Linked DNA regions of Homo sapiens: region 1 is linked to region 2. Evidence: fine-mapped expression QTL. Tissue or cell type: whole blood. Region 2 holds a variant in brackets; the other region holds the start of a gene. All regions are shown on one strand. Distances are from middle to middle.

Evidence for each region. PIP is the estimated chance that this variant, and not a neighbour inherited with it, causes the effect.
Region 1: IGFBP2 starts here. The variant in region 2 is fine-mapped to the expression of IGFBP2 in whole blood (TOPMed, PIP above 0.99). The same link has a PIP of 0.9 or more in blood mononuclear cells.

Annotation. Positions count from the first base shown.
Region 1 is chr2:216,629,158-216,637,157 of GRCh38, forward strand. It overlaps IGFBP2 (insulin like growth factor binding protein 2), which reads left to right and starts at 4,263. Exons shown (of 4, transcript NM_000597.3): 1 at 4,263-4,808. The coding sequence starts at 4,367.
Region 2 is chr2:216,650,123-216,658,122 of GRCh38, forward strand. All of the region lies in intron 1 of IGFBP2 (insulin like growth factor binding protein 2), which reads left to right. Among named protein-coding and RNA genes, the nearest start is that of IGFBP2, 21 kb to the left of the region's middle. The variant A/G (reference allele first, on the strand shown) is at 4,095.

The DNA.
Region 1 (8,000 bases), 21 kb before region 2:
ATTACAGCTCACTGCAGCCTCTACCTCCTGGGCTCAAATGATTTTCCCACCTCAGCCTCCTGAGTAGCTGCGACTACAGGCATGCGACTACAGGCATGCGCAACACCTGGCTTATTTTTTTATTTTTTGTAGAGACGGGGTTTCACCATATTGCCTAGGCTGGTCTTGAACTCTTGGGCTCCAGTGATCTTCTTGCATCAGCCACCCAAAGTGTTGAGATTACAGGCGTAAGCCACTGTGCCTGGCCAATGTTCTTCTTGATCTGGGAGCTGGTTATACGGTGCGGTCAATTTGTGGATATTTATCTGGTTTATCTACTTTTTTTTGCATGTATATTTCAATAAAATATTTTTAAAAAACATTCCTCTCCTGATGACTTAGTGGAGAAAATCTCAGCTTGGGTTTGACTTAACTTGAATGCTTCTTCTAAATTGTCTCATCTTTCTTAACTTGGGAAGAGTGTGCCAGCTTCAGAAGCTTCAGCAGGCAACAGTATCCAGCTCGAATCAAATAACATTGTCTTGTTTTCATTGTGTTTTATGGTTACCATCTATAGATGGCCATCAATACTACATTTCCATTTATGGTAGTGATATACAATTTCTTTTAAAAATGATCGTAAGCAAAAAAAAAAAAGAGTGAATTGCCTTACTTTAAAAAAATTATGTAAATAATAGTACAGGTGGTACCTAGTTACGGTAAACCATGTAAGGGTGGGGTTTATAAAACGTGGTTGAGATGGAAAAAGGCAGGGATTAAGGGGAAGGGAGAAAACCAGTCTTAGCCTGTCCCCATCTCTCAACCAATCCTCACTGCTGGGCACAGACAGGCTCTCAAGCCTGAGGACATACCTTTGCAGAGGACTCATGAGAAATCTAAAGTGAAGAATGCTCCAGGAACAATGGGATGGGCAAAGCCAGAGACAACAAGCGGAGAACCTGGATTCACTCAACAAATATTCTTTGAGTATCTCTGTGCAGGCACCGTTCTAGCCCTGGGCCTACAGTAATAAGCAAAATGGTTAAGTTGTAGGCCAGCCAGTAACCAGCTCTGGGTTCTGGGCTGAGTCCCCCTACTTCTCTAGGCTTCAATGGATTGAGGATGCTCTGTGATTCAAGCCTCTGTAGCAGCTGGCCTTTGGGGAGTGGGATTCTGAGTGAGGCTCAGGAGAGGTTAGGAAAAGCCTTAAAAATATGGGATTATTTTGTTATGTGTTTGCGTGTATTTAGGGTGGGGAAGGGTAAAATTGGCCATTAACCTGGGAACTAGGAGAAAAGAATTGGGTGTGGCCTTCAGGCTCATTAGAAAGTGAAATATCATTGAGTACTTTGCATTTGTCAAGTCAGCATCACTTTGCCTGCTCATCTCCACTGCTCTTGGCTGAAAGATCAAGAACTTTAAAAGGAGGTGGAAAGAGAATGAATCCCAAAAGATAAGTGAGTAGCTGCATGGGAATGAATGAATCAATGCCACTCTTAGCCTCTTAATAGACTCATCACAGCCTTTCATTCCCAGCTCCTGGGCATTGCAATTAAGACAGAAAGAGAATGAGGGGCCCTGCCAGGAATATTTTGAGAGACTGTACTTTTCATTCACTCAACAAATATTTATTGAGTGCTTACCTGGTGCCAGGCAGTATTTAGACCTGTGGGCTGTCCAATTTGATAGCTACCTAGCCACACATGGCTATCAAACATTTGAATTTTGGCTACTTCAAACTGAAATGTGCTGTATAGCATACACATCAGAACTTGAGGATTTAGTATAAGAAAAGGAATGTTAACTCTCTCATTAATTTTAGTGTTGATTACCCATTGAAATGATAGTATTTTGGATATACCGCCAAATTAAGAATATTATTAAAATAAATGTCATCTATTTCTTTTTACTATATTTTAATATGGCTACTAGAAATTTACAATTGCACATGTGCTCACGTTTGCGATTTGCAGTAGATTTCTATTGGACAGCGTTGTGCTAGACCCTGTGCCTACTCTGTAGGAGCTCAGTGGGTGGGACCAACAGAAACACGTTACAAAGCAGGCAGGAGACACCAGGGAGAATGAAGGTGGAATGACCATGATCCTTCCTGTGTCTTATTTTTATTTTTTTTAGATTGGCACTGTACATAGTGCTTTTTACTTCTTTTTTTTTTTTTTTTCAGATCGGCACCCTACATAGTGCTAACGATTTTTTTTTTTTTTTACTTTTTTTTCAGATCGGCACTCTACATAGTGCTAATGATTTCCAGAAGTCCAGCTCTGTCCATCTCTTCCTCTGCTCAAACATGGATGCTGTATCCTTACTGCCCAGCATATTAAGCCAAAGCGCCACAGTCAACTGGATTTCCTGCCTCCCCTGCTGCTCTCTGCAAGCATCCTGCACTCTGGCTGAAGTGGACTTTCTGATCCCCAAACTCATTTTCCCATTTCTCTCTCTCTCTCTCTCTCTCTCTCTCTCTCTCTCTCTCTCTGTGTGTGTGTGTGTGTGTGTGTGTGTGTGTTTTGAGACTGATTCTTACTCTGTCACCCAGGCTGGAGTGCAGTGGTGCGATCTTGGCTCACTGCAACTTCCACCTCCTGGGTTCAAGCGATTCTCCTGCCTCAGCCTCCCAAGTTGCTGGGACTACAGGCGTGCATCACCGTGCCTGGCTATTTTTTGTATTTTTAGTAGAGATGGGATTTCACCATGTTGGCCACGGTTGGCCAGGCTGGTCTTGAACTCCTGATCTCAGGTGATCCACCTGCCTCGGCCTCCCAAAGTGCTGGAATTACAGGTGTGAGCCACCGCGCCCGGCCCCATTTCTGTGTTTTTGCTTCAGGTGGTCCCTCTGCCTGTGCCCTTGCTAACCGCCCATTTCCTCTGGTAGAATTACAAGCTTCAATTTCAGCTCCGACTCACCCAAGAAACTCCCCTTTCCTCAACCACCACATCACCTCTCTACCAAAATATTTCTTTTCTTCAAAGCCTCTGATAAACATTTATTTATTTATTTTTTATCTTACCAAAGTCTTTCCCGATAACTCTTCCCAGCTTGGCGTCTTAAGACCAGGTACTTGCCTTCCTGGAGGCATCTAGGTCACCTTCAGAGCCAGGTGGCCATTGGGTTAACTAGCTGTTGAACTGAATCAAACAGGCTCTGAGCCTTGAAGTCAGAAAGAGCCAGAGTGGAGGGGTCTGGGGGGAAGAGGGGCGCTGAGGTATAGGGAGATGAAACCTGCGGTGGAGGCAGCTTAATGGTCCACCTGTCACCCAAGGAATCTCTCTGACAGGGGTCTTTGTTAGGGTCACACCCCAGGAGATGGTTGATTATGGCTGAGTCCAGCCTGGAATGATGGGGGTTGGGGGCAGCTTGGGTAGATGACTCAGTAAATCAAACAGAACAATGAAAGGAGGTCATGCTTGTCCATCTGCATTATTGAAGACAGCCATAAATGGCCTTACCCCAGAGCGGGTCTGTCACACCTGGAGAGCTGATCTGACCTCTCCAAGACCCCTGCAACTGAGTGTTCTGGGATCTGTCCTGCAACAAGTGCCTCGAGATTTGTAGGTGGGGGCCCAGGGTGCTAAGGGATTATTTTAGCGGGCGGAGAAGGGAGGGGGTCTGCAGACGAAGGGGGCAGGTTTTGCGGGGCACTTAGGGTTCTCATAGGTTGTAGTCACGAGCTCCCAGGTTTGGAAAACTGCAATAGTCACTAAGACCATTCGGGGCTGTTTGGGTCTAGCTTGGTCTAGACGGGTCTGAAACTCCGCAGGACCCACCCAACAAGAAGTCATTGTTCCAAGCCACGTGTCAGTGGTGGGTGATACCCCAGGATGGAAGGAGTTGGTATGAGCCGACTGAAATCTACTTGAAGGTCAAAACGGAGCCTTATGTCTTTTGTGTTCCCCAGCGGTTAGCCCAGTGCCGGCCACAGGGGAAGCGCGCAAACGAAGTCCTCGCGAACTGAACTGAGAGCAGACAAAAGCACGCGCTCTTCTCCACCGCCACGCCGGTCCTACCCAAACCCGCGAGTTATCCGTATTCTCCTTCAGGAGTCATAGTCAGGCCAGAAGAGTGCGGAGGGACGGGGCCCGGGAAGAGCAGGGAACCCCCAGAGCCCGCAGCCAACGCGGAGGTGGGCGAGCGGGCGTGCGCGCACTCACTTGCCGGCGCGAGGGAGTGTCGGGGGGGAAGGGAGTGGTCTCCAAAAGGGGGAGGGGAGAAGGCAGGGGGCGGGGAGAAGCCGGCCCTTTAGGACCCGGCTGCGGCGGCGAGGGAGGAGGAAGAAGCGGAGGAGGCGGCTCCCGCGCTCGCAGGGCCGTGCCACCTGCCCGCCCGCCCGCTCGCTCGCTCGCCCGCCGCGCCGCGCTGCCGACCGCCAGCATGCTGCCGAGAGTGGGCTGCCCCGCGCTGCCGCTGCCGCCGCCGCCGCTGCTGCCGCTGCTGCTGCTGCTACTGGGCGCGAGTGGCGGCGGCGGCGGGGCGCGCGCGGAGGTGCTGTTCCGCTGCCCGCCCTGCACACCCGAGCGCCTGGCCGCCTGCGGGCCCCCGCCGGTTGCGCCGCCCGCCGCGGTGGCCGCAGTGGCCGGAGGCGCCCGCATGCCATGCGCGGAGCTCGTCCGGGAGCCGGGCTGCGGCTGCTGCTCGGTGTGCGCCCGGCTGGAGGGCGAGGCGTGCGGCGTCTACACCCCGCGCTGCGGCCAGGGGCTGCGCTGCTATCCCCACCCGGGCTCCGAGCTGCCCCTGCAGGCGCTGGTCATGGGCGAGGGCACTTGTGAGAAGCGCCGGGACGCCGAGTATGGCGCCAGCCCGGAGCAGGTTGCAGGTAACGCGGTCTGGAACAAGTAGTTGGGAGAAACTTGGAGGGCAGCGGAGAAGCCCGACGGGCGGCTGGACCTTACGGACGGTTTTAGGGGCGGCAGAGCCGAGACCTTGGACCAAATCAAGGGGGACTGTTGCTAGCGGGACGCGGAAGTCAGGCCCGGGGAGGGGAACTGGAGTTAGAGCAAGTGGAAGAGCCCTGGCGACTCATTTGGTGGGGATGAATGGGGAGAGGAAAGGCATCCCTGCTGCCATAGTTTTACCCGCGTGGAACGGACCCAGACTTCTATTCTGGAGGAGGGATTTGCTGAGAAGGGGGCCGGTGGTCAGATCCATGGGAGTAGGAACTCGAATCTTATTTGGGGCACTGCTTGAGGACCCAAGGGTCCTGGTGGGATCGCTGCTGGGAGGCGGAGGCTGCGGGGTGCCAGTGACACCAGGAACCTTGGAAGAGGAGAGGGAGCTAGGAGGAGGCACCGGCGTCCCAAGGGGCCCTTCCTTCTACTGGGGTTGTGAGTTGGAAAGAAAGGACTTGGTACTTTGTAGGATGAGTCGCTTAGGAGAAAAATGAAAACCACCACTACTATTTCTCCATAGGGAACGAGCAGGGCTCTTGCTACCACGTTGAATGGAAAAATAAAAGGGAGGCATTTGGTAGGCGAGGGGTCTCCTAGCAGCTGAATCAATGTAACTTAAGCCCGATCGCCGGCTGCATTCCCTGGACGGGGGCAGCCAGGCTGTGCGGTTTCGCATCTGGGCCCCAGATCGAAAGGCAGGAGAGATGCGTTGCCACCCCCCACCCCCGCCCCTATCTTAAATTGAGGGACCCTTTCCTGTAGGATAGAATGAGGACCCGATATTCTTTGTTCAGGGGCCCTCATCCCTCCCAAAAAGTTATTTGAGGGACACAACCAGGCTCTAAGGAGGTTACTTTTTTTTTTTTTTAATTACGAAAGCCTCCTGCCCCAGTGGTCGGGAGGAAGCTGTAATTATTTTCTTTCCTCTTGGAGACAGTGGTGAAATGTGTCCACTGCCTGCTGCTGTTGTTGAAAAAGCAAGTGAGTCTTAAGTTTCTCAAACTTAAAAAGAAAAAGTGAAAAGAAGAATGCTTGCTTTTTAGCTTCTGAGGTCTTCGTAAGCCCCCCACCCCATGCACCAACCCGCCTCCCTTCTCCTGGTCGGCTATTGTTTTTTTCCCTGTTCTCCTTGAGAATGGAATTAGGGGTCAGAGTTGAAATCTTTCTTCTGTTTCTCTAGCACATTTTGCTCTGGAGTACAGAGCAAGTTAGGGCTTCCTCTGAGTGGAGCCTCTCAGTCCCTTTCTTCTCCCTCGGCTCGCTTCCTTCCCTAGCCTGCCTGGAAGTTAACCCTTCCCTCCTGCTTCTCTTAGAAAGTAACAATAAAAGGAAAAAGCCCCCACGAAATCCTTTCACTGCGGGGTGCCTGTCCCCCAGTCATGCGTTCCTCCTCATCACCCCTCGTGGTCCACCGGGGAGGTGCTGTGCAGTTTCTGAGCTGAACTCTGACAAACTAAACATCTTCCTCAGCAGGGTGAACTTTTTGAAAGGCCTCTAAGTTCATAGGATGGTTTGGCTGCTGACTGTTTTAATAAAGTGTGTGATGCCTTTCCTTCTTTAACGTTTTACTTTTTTTTTTTTCCTACTCTTCATTCGTCTTATTCTAAGCCTGAAAACCAATTCTACTTCCCAAATCCCTGAAGCCGGTTAGGGTCTTTAGCCAGGAACAGATGCGGCAGATTTTCTCCCATTCACTTTTCCCTGGAGCCTGAAGGGGGTGGGGGGTAGTTGTCAGGGGAGGCCAGGGACAATGGGGTGAGTTCATGGGAAGAATGTCACTCTGGATTTTCTGCCTGGTTATGGGACTCCCTTCCGCCAGCTTGCCCCAGCTGCGTTCTCCTCCCCAGTGCCCAGACGCCTTCCGCATTTTTGTGCACCGGCCTGGGAAGAGGGGATGTTAAGCAGGGGTGGAAGGTGGGGGGTGGGGCTGGAAGCTGAGTGGGTGCACTCAAAAGAAGTGACCAATGTCAGGGGTGCCTGAGAAAGAGTCGGGCTGGGGGAGGGGAGCACTTTGGGAAGGAGCCTGAGCTTGCAAGGGTGCAGGAGAAAAAGGGGTCAAGGTTGGAGGCTTTTGTGTGGGAGAGGGTCTTAGGCTGGGGCAGAGACTGGAGTCACTGGATGGAGAGTGCTGGGTCCGAGTTGGGTGGGGCCTGGCCCAGACGGAGATCTTAGCACTGAATCCTCTGCCTCCCACTCCATCTCCCGTCCCGTCTTCTCTCCTCTCCGAAGAATGAGCACCCCCCCTCCAGCCTGCATTCCTCTTTGAGCAGGTTGCTTTTGAGAATTTTAAACATACCCTCTTATTTCGAGGCAGCGAACCTCAGCAGTTCCGGCTTTGCTGTTAGCTCTTTTGTCTTTGTTCCCGGGACTCAGGGGCTGTGTTGCTGCTGGCTTCCTGGGGATGGCAAGGATGCAGGGGTGGGGGTGGGCACATCAGTGGGTGGAAGGAGTGGGTGGTGGTGAGCCTGTATCCCACGGGGACGATGGGCTGGGGCTTGTTGGTTCAAAGAAACTGAGAAGTCAGTCTTGGGGGAAGGGGTGGGTAGGCCTAGAAGAAAAACCGAAAGGAGACCCTGAGATCTGCTTGAAGTTGGGACTCTAAAAGCGTGTGTATGTGTTTGGTGGTGGAGTGGATAGAAGTGCCTAGAAATGTCAGGGTCGAGGAGGGAACAGGGTTGGGCCAGTCCAGGCCCTTTCAGAATTAAGGCTGGGCTAGACCGGTTCCTTCAGTATCTCCCCAGCCTCCTTCCCTACCGTGTACAATGCAGGGGATTATGCTGAGGGGCGGGGCCGCCCGAGTGGCCGTTTGGCCCGCTGCACGTATAAAGGTGCTACAGAAATGTGTAGTCGTTCAAAGTCCCAGGGCGGGCAGACAGGCAGGCAGGCAGGCGGGCGGGCGGGCGGGCGGGCGGGCCTGGGGAGGCTCTGCATCTGCAGTTGCCGGGGAAGAATAAAGGGGGGAAGAGGCAAGCACTGATTTACAGTGGTTCAGTGCAGCTTCAAAAAAAAAGGGGGAAAAAGCAATGGGACTTCTGGCTCAGAGTACTGCTTTGCATCTCGTCTTGCATAAATTTGCATACTGAGTTCAAAGTCGTAAAATAGACTAGGGAAATGAGTGG
Region 2 (8,000 bases):
GAGCTTGAGAGGAGAGGTATCATTCAACATACAGATTCCTTAGTCCTTGCCTCTGACTTTCTGGGGCTGGGGTCCAGGGCTCTTATTTTTAGCAAGCTCATCAGATGATTTCTGATGAAGAGCTATGTTTGGGAACTTCTGACTGGGTCTAATTCCCTGAATTTACAGATGAGTACACTGACACCTGCGCAAGTTGAACACCCTGCTTAGCGTCACTCAGAATCCCAGGGGTGGTGGTGAAGTCAGGATCGAACCTCAGTCCTTCCTCCCACACTGGGACTGCTTGGCCAAGGCTTCGAACCCAAAAGCTGGTGCTCCAAAGGAAATCCAAAAAGAGTTTGCAGAGTGGTTTGACGTGGAGGGGATTCATCGGCCAGGTGGGGGCTCTCTGCCCTCCCTTGGTGGTGCATCATCTCCTGTAGGTGTTTTGTCACCGTGGAAGGGCAGTAGCCTGTGCCTGTTGGGCTTGCCACTCAACAGAGGTCACTGAGCTCTTCCGCACTCAGCTGGGTGATTGGCCTGTGGTAGCTGCAGGTGGAGGGAGATGATTCTCAGAAGAGAAAGGCCAGTTCTTGCAGTCGTGTGATCTTATAACCTAGGGGACTTGTGGATCTGAAACATCTGAGAAGGCTGTTTGCAGTTATTTACTACCACAAAGGAAACTGGGAGAGGAGGGACCACCTGTTGGAAAACCATGCTCAGAAGTGACTGGTCTGTTGCTGAAGGATGGAAGGATATCAGGTGTTGCATGGCTGGCTCCCTTGCAGGAAGGAAGGGCTCAGGGGGTGAGAAGGAATAGGAAGGGAGTTTACAATGAATGAAGCTGGGTGTCCTCAGGAGATAGATGGACCAGTTGGGGTGATGTCATTAACTAAGCTGGAATGTGTCCTGAGTGCCAGCCTATACCGCGACAGACATCTGTGCACACTATTCAGAATTCCAGTGTGAGAGGCCACTGCCCCCTCTGACCTTTTGAAAAAAAAAGTCAGGGGAAGACACATAAACAGTGTCACTCACCCACAAAGTCTCAGGACCTCAGGTTAAACTTTAGCTAAAGAAGTAACAAATAGAACCCCCATTTTACCTTCCTCTTTCCTAACTTCTGCCTCCCTCCCTCCCACCAGCATGGCCTGAATTACTAATCCCAGCCTGTTGGTGGGCTGTGCTATTGAACATAGTGGCCACATGCTAGATGGAGTTTGGTGACCACCATCAGCCATCCAAAGAGGACTGGCTTCAAATTCTCTCCAACAAAAGCTGTTTCTTGTATGTGCTGGCGTGTTTATGAGCCCTGTCTCAACTGAGCATGCGTGGTGATTATGAGCTACTGCCTGACCTCCTTCCCTTTGTCCCTCCCGCTAAATTCTGTAAACAAAGTTAAAGTAATTTAGGCAAATTCATTCTTGCTTAAGGACTTCTATTAAATGGCAGAGAGCTTTGATATTTAGCAATGTATAAAATTTGTACAATCAAAACCAAGCTTTAGAAGAAATATGCAATAGATCATATTGCAGAACTCTCATGACTCATTTTTTCCATGCATTTGGCCATTCTACAAATCAGACATTACCTAGCCTTCCCCTCACATGGCAGATATAACTTTTATTTACCCATTCAAGAAATTGATTGTTCACACATTCCTTTTTCTTTGAAACAAGGTCTTGCTTTGTCGCCCAGGCTGGAGTGTAGTGGTGTAATCTTGGCTCACTGCAAGAAGTGAACTCCGCCTGCTGGGTTCAAGCGATTCTTGTGCCTCAGCCTCTCAAGTAGCTGGGACCTCAGGCATGTGCCACCATGCCCAGCTAATTTTTGTATTTTTGGTAGAGACAGGTTTTTGCTATGTTGGCCAGGCTGGTCTTGAACTCCTGGCCTCAAATGACCCGCCCACCTCAGCCTCCCAAAGTGCTGGGATTACAGGCATGAGCCACCATGCCTGGCCACCACACATTTTTTTCTAAAGCTTGGTTTTGGCCACAGTGAGAGTTTCTTGGGCTGTCAGGGGTAAAAATACCATGTCTTGTTTAACAGCAGCCATCATTTTAGCAGAATTTTTTTTTTTTTTTTTTTTGAGACTGAGCTTTGCTCTTGTTGCCCAGGCTGGAGCGCAATGGCGCGATCTTGGCTCACTGCAACCTCCGCTTCCCGGGTTCAAGTGATTCTCCTGCCTCAGCCTCCTGAGTAGCTGAGATTACAGGCATGCGCCACCATGCCTGGCTAATTTTTATGTATTTTTAGTAGAGACGGTGTTACTCCATGTTGGTCAGACTGGTCTCGAACTCCTGACCTCAGGTGATCTGCCCGCCTCGGCCTCCCAAAATGCTGGGATTACAGGCGTGAGCCACCGCGCCCCGCCCCTTAGCAGAATTGTTAATATCATTTTTCAGACTTGAGAAATTAGAGCTCAGAGAGGTTAAAGGTTCTGACTCGTGAGTGAATCTCAAAGGGCAAAGCTGGCATTCAGGGTTCTTGACTGCTGGGTTCATTGCTCATTCCAGTTTGTTAATGAATCGTCCACTGCTATGGATATTAATGGAGTCGTCTAGAGAGCAGGGGGAGGAGGATGGTGGTTAGTATTTATTCTGTTGCCCAACATATGTCAAGGCTAAGTGCCTTTTGGGAGAAATTAACAAAGACGGAGCCATGTGAGTTTTCTGCCCAGCTAGGGTGGAACCAGGAAGCTGCGGCCAGCCTTCATTCCCCTGGCCCATTACTCAGAATTAACTCTTGAAAGGCTTGGAATGCTATTACCTGTTGCAAGAGGTGAGTTCATTGGAGGAATGATAAGTTCAGGGTTGGCTTAGATCATCTCTGTGGTACTCCTCTTTCCCAACCCTGCTCTTAGATTTTAAGATAATCATGAGATAGGAGGAGAAGGCTGGAAAATGGTAAGTCTTTCTTCAGAATAAAGAAAAGAAGAAAGAAGAGAGACACATGAGCTGTTAGGAAGATGTGATTGTTCTAGGTAGGGAAAAGGTCTTATTTCCTCACCAGGTCTGGATAAGGACCGGGGCCACACACTCTGAGGAGGAAGGACCAGGGAGGTGCTTTTAGATTCTTGGGGCTTAGTTTCCTAAGAAAGCTTTTTAAGGTCTCTCTTAGATCAGGAATCACCAATTTCCAAATAGAGCACTGAGGTCAGAACATTGTGCTAGGAGAAAATGAGATTTTGTGGGAGTCCGTTTCTATCAAACACAAGAGTTTGATTTGTTGAGTAAGATCATTGATGCAACAAACAGGATTACATTGGAAAAATGAGCTGTGCCAAAATTAGGTCTGAAAACCTGGGTATGAATGCATAGAAGTGAACAATAAAGGCTCTTTCTCTTGGGCTGTCAGCTTCCAGCTGCTCTCCTTGGCTAAATTAGTAAGGGTGGGCCAAAAGACAATGTAGGGACCCCATGATAATTGTGAAGAATGGCAGAGAGGTTGTTTGCTCCTGTGAATTCAAATGGTAGTCCATCTGGGCTCAGGTTTGCCATCTGTAAAATGGGACAACGATCCATTTCTTTTCATCCCATCTGCCTTCCTCATCTCCAGCTCTCCTCTAGGGGTCTTAGGTAGAAAGGTGTGGCAGTCTACCCAAGGCAGGGGTGGGAGTTCTCCCCTGCCCTTCAAGCCCCCGACTAATGGCTCTGGGGTTGTCTGTCATCTCCCTGACTTCTCTTTGGAAAAGCTTGACCTTCTATATGTGAAATCCCTTGCTTCTGTGTTGACCCATTTCCCTAGGTGCTATGTAGGGAAGAAGAGCTAATGCTTACTAATCTACAGGGAAAGTCTCTTCAGGGGCCTTGGAGGTTTCTATCAACCATTTCTAAGCCCATGAGCCTTTTCCATTGATGTCATTTGGGGTTGCTAAGAACCATTTCTTATAGTGACCTTTGCACCATAGCCCATGGAGTTGCATACATAAGTGGTTGCTTAATAAATATTATTCTGAACTTAACTCTCTTAGGCAGAAAAAAAATACAACTTGGTATTTTTGTTCTGAGGGCAAATTCCATCTCTAGCTGGAGTTCGACATCTGGAATGTTTTCCTGTGGATTGTTCTTGCAGCCTATAAGAGGATATATGGGAAGAACTTGGTAACATGTGAT[A/G]ATGCCCTTGTCTGACTGAGGGGAGGAGGGGCGCTATGTGGGTACTTCCTGGTAGGCAGGAAATGGAAGTGGCTAAGAGCTAACCCCATGTGTGCCTACTGTGTGCCAGGCCCTCTCTGTAGATGCAGGCAGCATCTCTTTGGATCCTCCCAGTTGCCCATAGGAGGTGCATACTGTTTGTCCTTTTACAGATGAACAATGGAAGCACAGAGAGCTTAAGAAAGTTGTCTGGTGCTGCACAGCTCAGTAGTAAAAGCTTGAATTCCAACTCAGGCAGTTAGATTTTGGGGTTTGAATCTCTTTGGCTGGGAACAGTAACAAGGAATGCAGGCTTTTCTCAGCCTACAATGCTTTCTGATCTCTGCCTGGTCAACTCTTTCATTTCCCTTCCCTGGGCTTCTACTTCAAGATGTGGAGTTCAGATCTGGCTACGGGATTTGAGTCCAGAAGCCTCTTCCTGAGAAAGAAACAGATGCTGATGCATGGTCTTGTTAAACCATCTTTAAAAGACCTTGCATCAGCAAACCAGGCCTGTGGATTTCTTCATCTTATTGGCATGTTCGTTGGCACTGCTGAGATCAATAAAGAAATGGAATGAAACATACCCTTGAATCCAGGTGGCCTCTGTGAGGGTGGACAAACTTGACCTTCACCTCAGAGAGTTTGGGACATCTCAGGGCAGGAAATCAACTTTGTCCTCCTGGAGGAACACTGCCAAGTTGACCCCAGCCTCCTGGGACCTGGAGCCAGGGTTGCATATGACATCTGTGGGCCCTGGACACTGCCTCTGTGGGCCCTTCTATAAAAACATATATTTTTAAAATTTAAAAATTATTATTTTTCGTTTTTGAGACAGGGGCTCACTCTGTCACCCAGGCTGGAGTGCAGTGGCATGATCATGGCTCACTGCAGCCTCTAACCCCTGGGCTCAAGTAATTTCCCACCTCAGCCTCCCAGGTAGCTGGGACCACAGGTGTGCATCACCATGCCTGGCTATTTTTTTATTTTTAGCAGAGACAAGGTGATATAGTTAGGCTTTGTGTCGCCACCCAAATGTCATCTTGAATTGTAATCCCCATAATCCCCAGGTGTTGATGGAGAGATCAGGTGGAGGTAACTGAATCATGGGGGTGGGTCCCCCATGTTGTTCTCGTGATAGCGAGTGAGTTCTCCTGAGATCTGATGGTTTTATAAGGAGCTCTTCCCCGCTTCACCTGGCACTTCTTCCTGCCACCTTGTGAAGAAGGTGCCTTGCTTCCCGGACCTTTGGCTTCTACCACGATTGTGAGTTTCCTGAGGCCTCCCCGCCATGCTGAACTGTGAGTCAATTAAAGCTCTTTCCTTTATAAATTACCCAGTCTCAGGCAGTTTTTTATAGCAGTGTGAAAATGGACTAATACAGTCAGGCGTGGTGGCTCATGCCTATAATCCCAGCACTTTGGGAGACCGAGGTGGGCCTCCTGTGGCAAGGAGTTCAAGACCAGCCTGGCCAACATGGTGAAATCCTGTCTGTACTAAAAATACAAATATTAACCAGGCGTGGTGACACATGCCTGTAGTTCCAGCTACTCGAGAAGCTGAGGCAGGAGAATTGCTCAAACCCAGGAGGCGGAGGTTGCAGTGAGCCAAGATCGTGCCACTGTACTCCAGCCTGGGTGACAGAGCGATACTCTGTCTCAAAAAAACAAAAAAAAAAAATCAAAAAACCATATTTTATAACTTGTTTAATAAATGCAAATGTATTAATATTATATAGTAAGACTTTTTAACCTAAAAGTTATTTTTTTTTTCTGATGTTAATAGAAATAAAAATATGTCCTAGGCACTGTGCCTCCAGAGCCCAATGGACAAGTTGGCCCTGCCTGGCGCCTTCAGGCCCGAATGCACATTTATCTGTGTGTGCCCCTCTCCTTTTTCAAATGTGTTTCCAGAGATTGCAGAGGGCCTTCTTCTGAGGATTAATGTTGGATTGACCTCTGGGACGCAGCCAAGGGATGGTTCTTTGGCCACTGTCTGTGGTACAAGAGGGCTTCGTGAAGATGGGGAGCTGCAGGCTGAAAGTCCTCTAGGAAGCCCAGGGAAGATCCTGTGCCCTGCCCCCAAGAAACTGTGGACTATTGTGGCTGCAGATGGAAGGGTAGCGGAGGGGTCTTAGCCGTGGATGCGGAATATAGTGGAGCTAGATTTGCTTTATATGGGGCCTGGAGCCATTTCAGCAATGGGCTATCAGCTTACAGGTCTTGGGCTAAAAGCCTGACTCCAGAAGAGTGATTCTCACCCTGGGCAGTTTTGCCTCTCCGGGGCCATTTGGCAACGAATGAAGACACATTTTTTGTTGTTCCAACCTGGGGAGGGTGCTACTGGTTTCTGGTGGGTAGAGGCCAGGAATGCTGCCCAACATCTGGAGTACACTGGATGTTCCAGGCATTGAGTTCGGGTGAGCGGCTCCTTCCCAGAAGCTCATGGATAGAGGTACACATGAGCTGCCTTTCCCGTCTCCAACCAGACAACGTGTTGTTATAGCCATAATAGAGACTGTCTGCCTTCACCCAAGCCACTTCCCAAGAGGGCAGAGCCAGGTGAGCCTCTGAGCATCACAGACTTCATGTCCACAGATTGGAGAGTTCCAGAAATGGTGGCAGGGTGCAGTACCAGCAGACTCCCAGAGCTCCTGTCTTCTCTAACACCCTGTGAGCAGAATGCGGTGTCGAGGTCTCCAGAAACCCTTCCTGCCTCTGTGGGCACAAAGCTGGGTAGGGTGCGGTAAGCAGGGTGATGCCAAGGGTGATCTCAGGTACCAAGGGTTCGGGTGAGGGCGAACTGGAGGTTCCCACTTCATTTTGTCTTTCTCATTTTGATCCTGAGTAGCTGGGAGGGAGTCAAAGGGCTCTTCTCTATGTTCCAATGCAGGTGGTGGGAGTGGGGAGACTTTCTAGCTACTTTGCTCTCCTCCTGTGTTTTTGGTGTCTGCAGAGGGCAGGGGCAGGGAGCTTGAGATGGTCCCACTCAGGTCTGGGGACAGAGAGGCCTGTCTGGGAAGGGCAGCGGGGCGGAGGCAGGGAGGCTGGGGATGAGTGCGTGCGCTGCACGGCATCTGTGTGCTGCGTTAGAGGTCAGTGTTGAGATGGAAAGTTGACTGAACCTGATCTCTTCTGTTTGTTGTCCAGGTTTGTCTGATCTCAGACTTTCCCCGGCCTTTCTCTTTCACCCTTTTGTTTCTGACCTCTGGGGTCCATCTGAAGAGGGAAGGGGGGCTCTTCTAGGAGGGTGTGGACCTGGTGGCGCTGAAGAAATCTGCCGCACGGTGGGGTGACTCAGCGTCCCTGTTCTTGGGAACCTGGCAGGCAGCTGAGCAGGGGCACTCACTCAGCCTGCCTCTCTGGGTCCCTGGGTGTCTGCTGCTCTCCATGTGGAGGAGCACAGAGGGCAGGGCAGGATGGATGAGGAAAGCTGTGGGCTGGTGCCTGGGTCTGATTAGACATGGTGGAGCAGGACTCCAACCTAGCCTGGAGGCGCACGCTAAATCGGCCTTTTCCTGCCGGTGGTGCTGGGCTGCCGGGCTGCTGGAACAATTTAATCTGTGCTGGCTTCATTTATGGTACAACCCAGGCTCCCCAGAGCCCCTGTGGGAATAACCATTCTAAATAAAATATTTTTCCAGGTTTCAGGTTTATACATTTAACATTTAAATTTTTTTTTTCCTGGAGTTCAACAATTTTGGATAAAAGTCTTTTAAAATGATGAATAGGTAGAATTTTAATTCCCTCCCCTTTTTGATGTCCCAAGATCATCGTCATCAACGTAATTCTTGTTTTGGGCTGTAAGACATGGAAATCCCCAGGGTTCATTGAGGGGCATTCATTGTTTGCCACACACAAAATGTACCCGGAGTTTGTATGTTTTGTT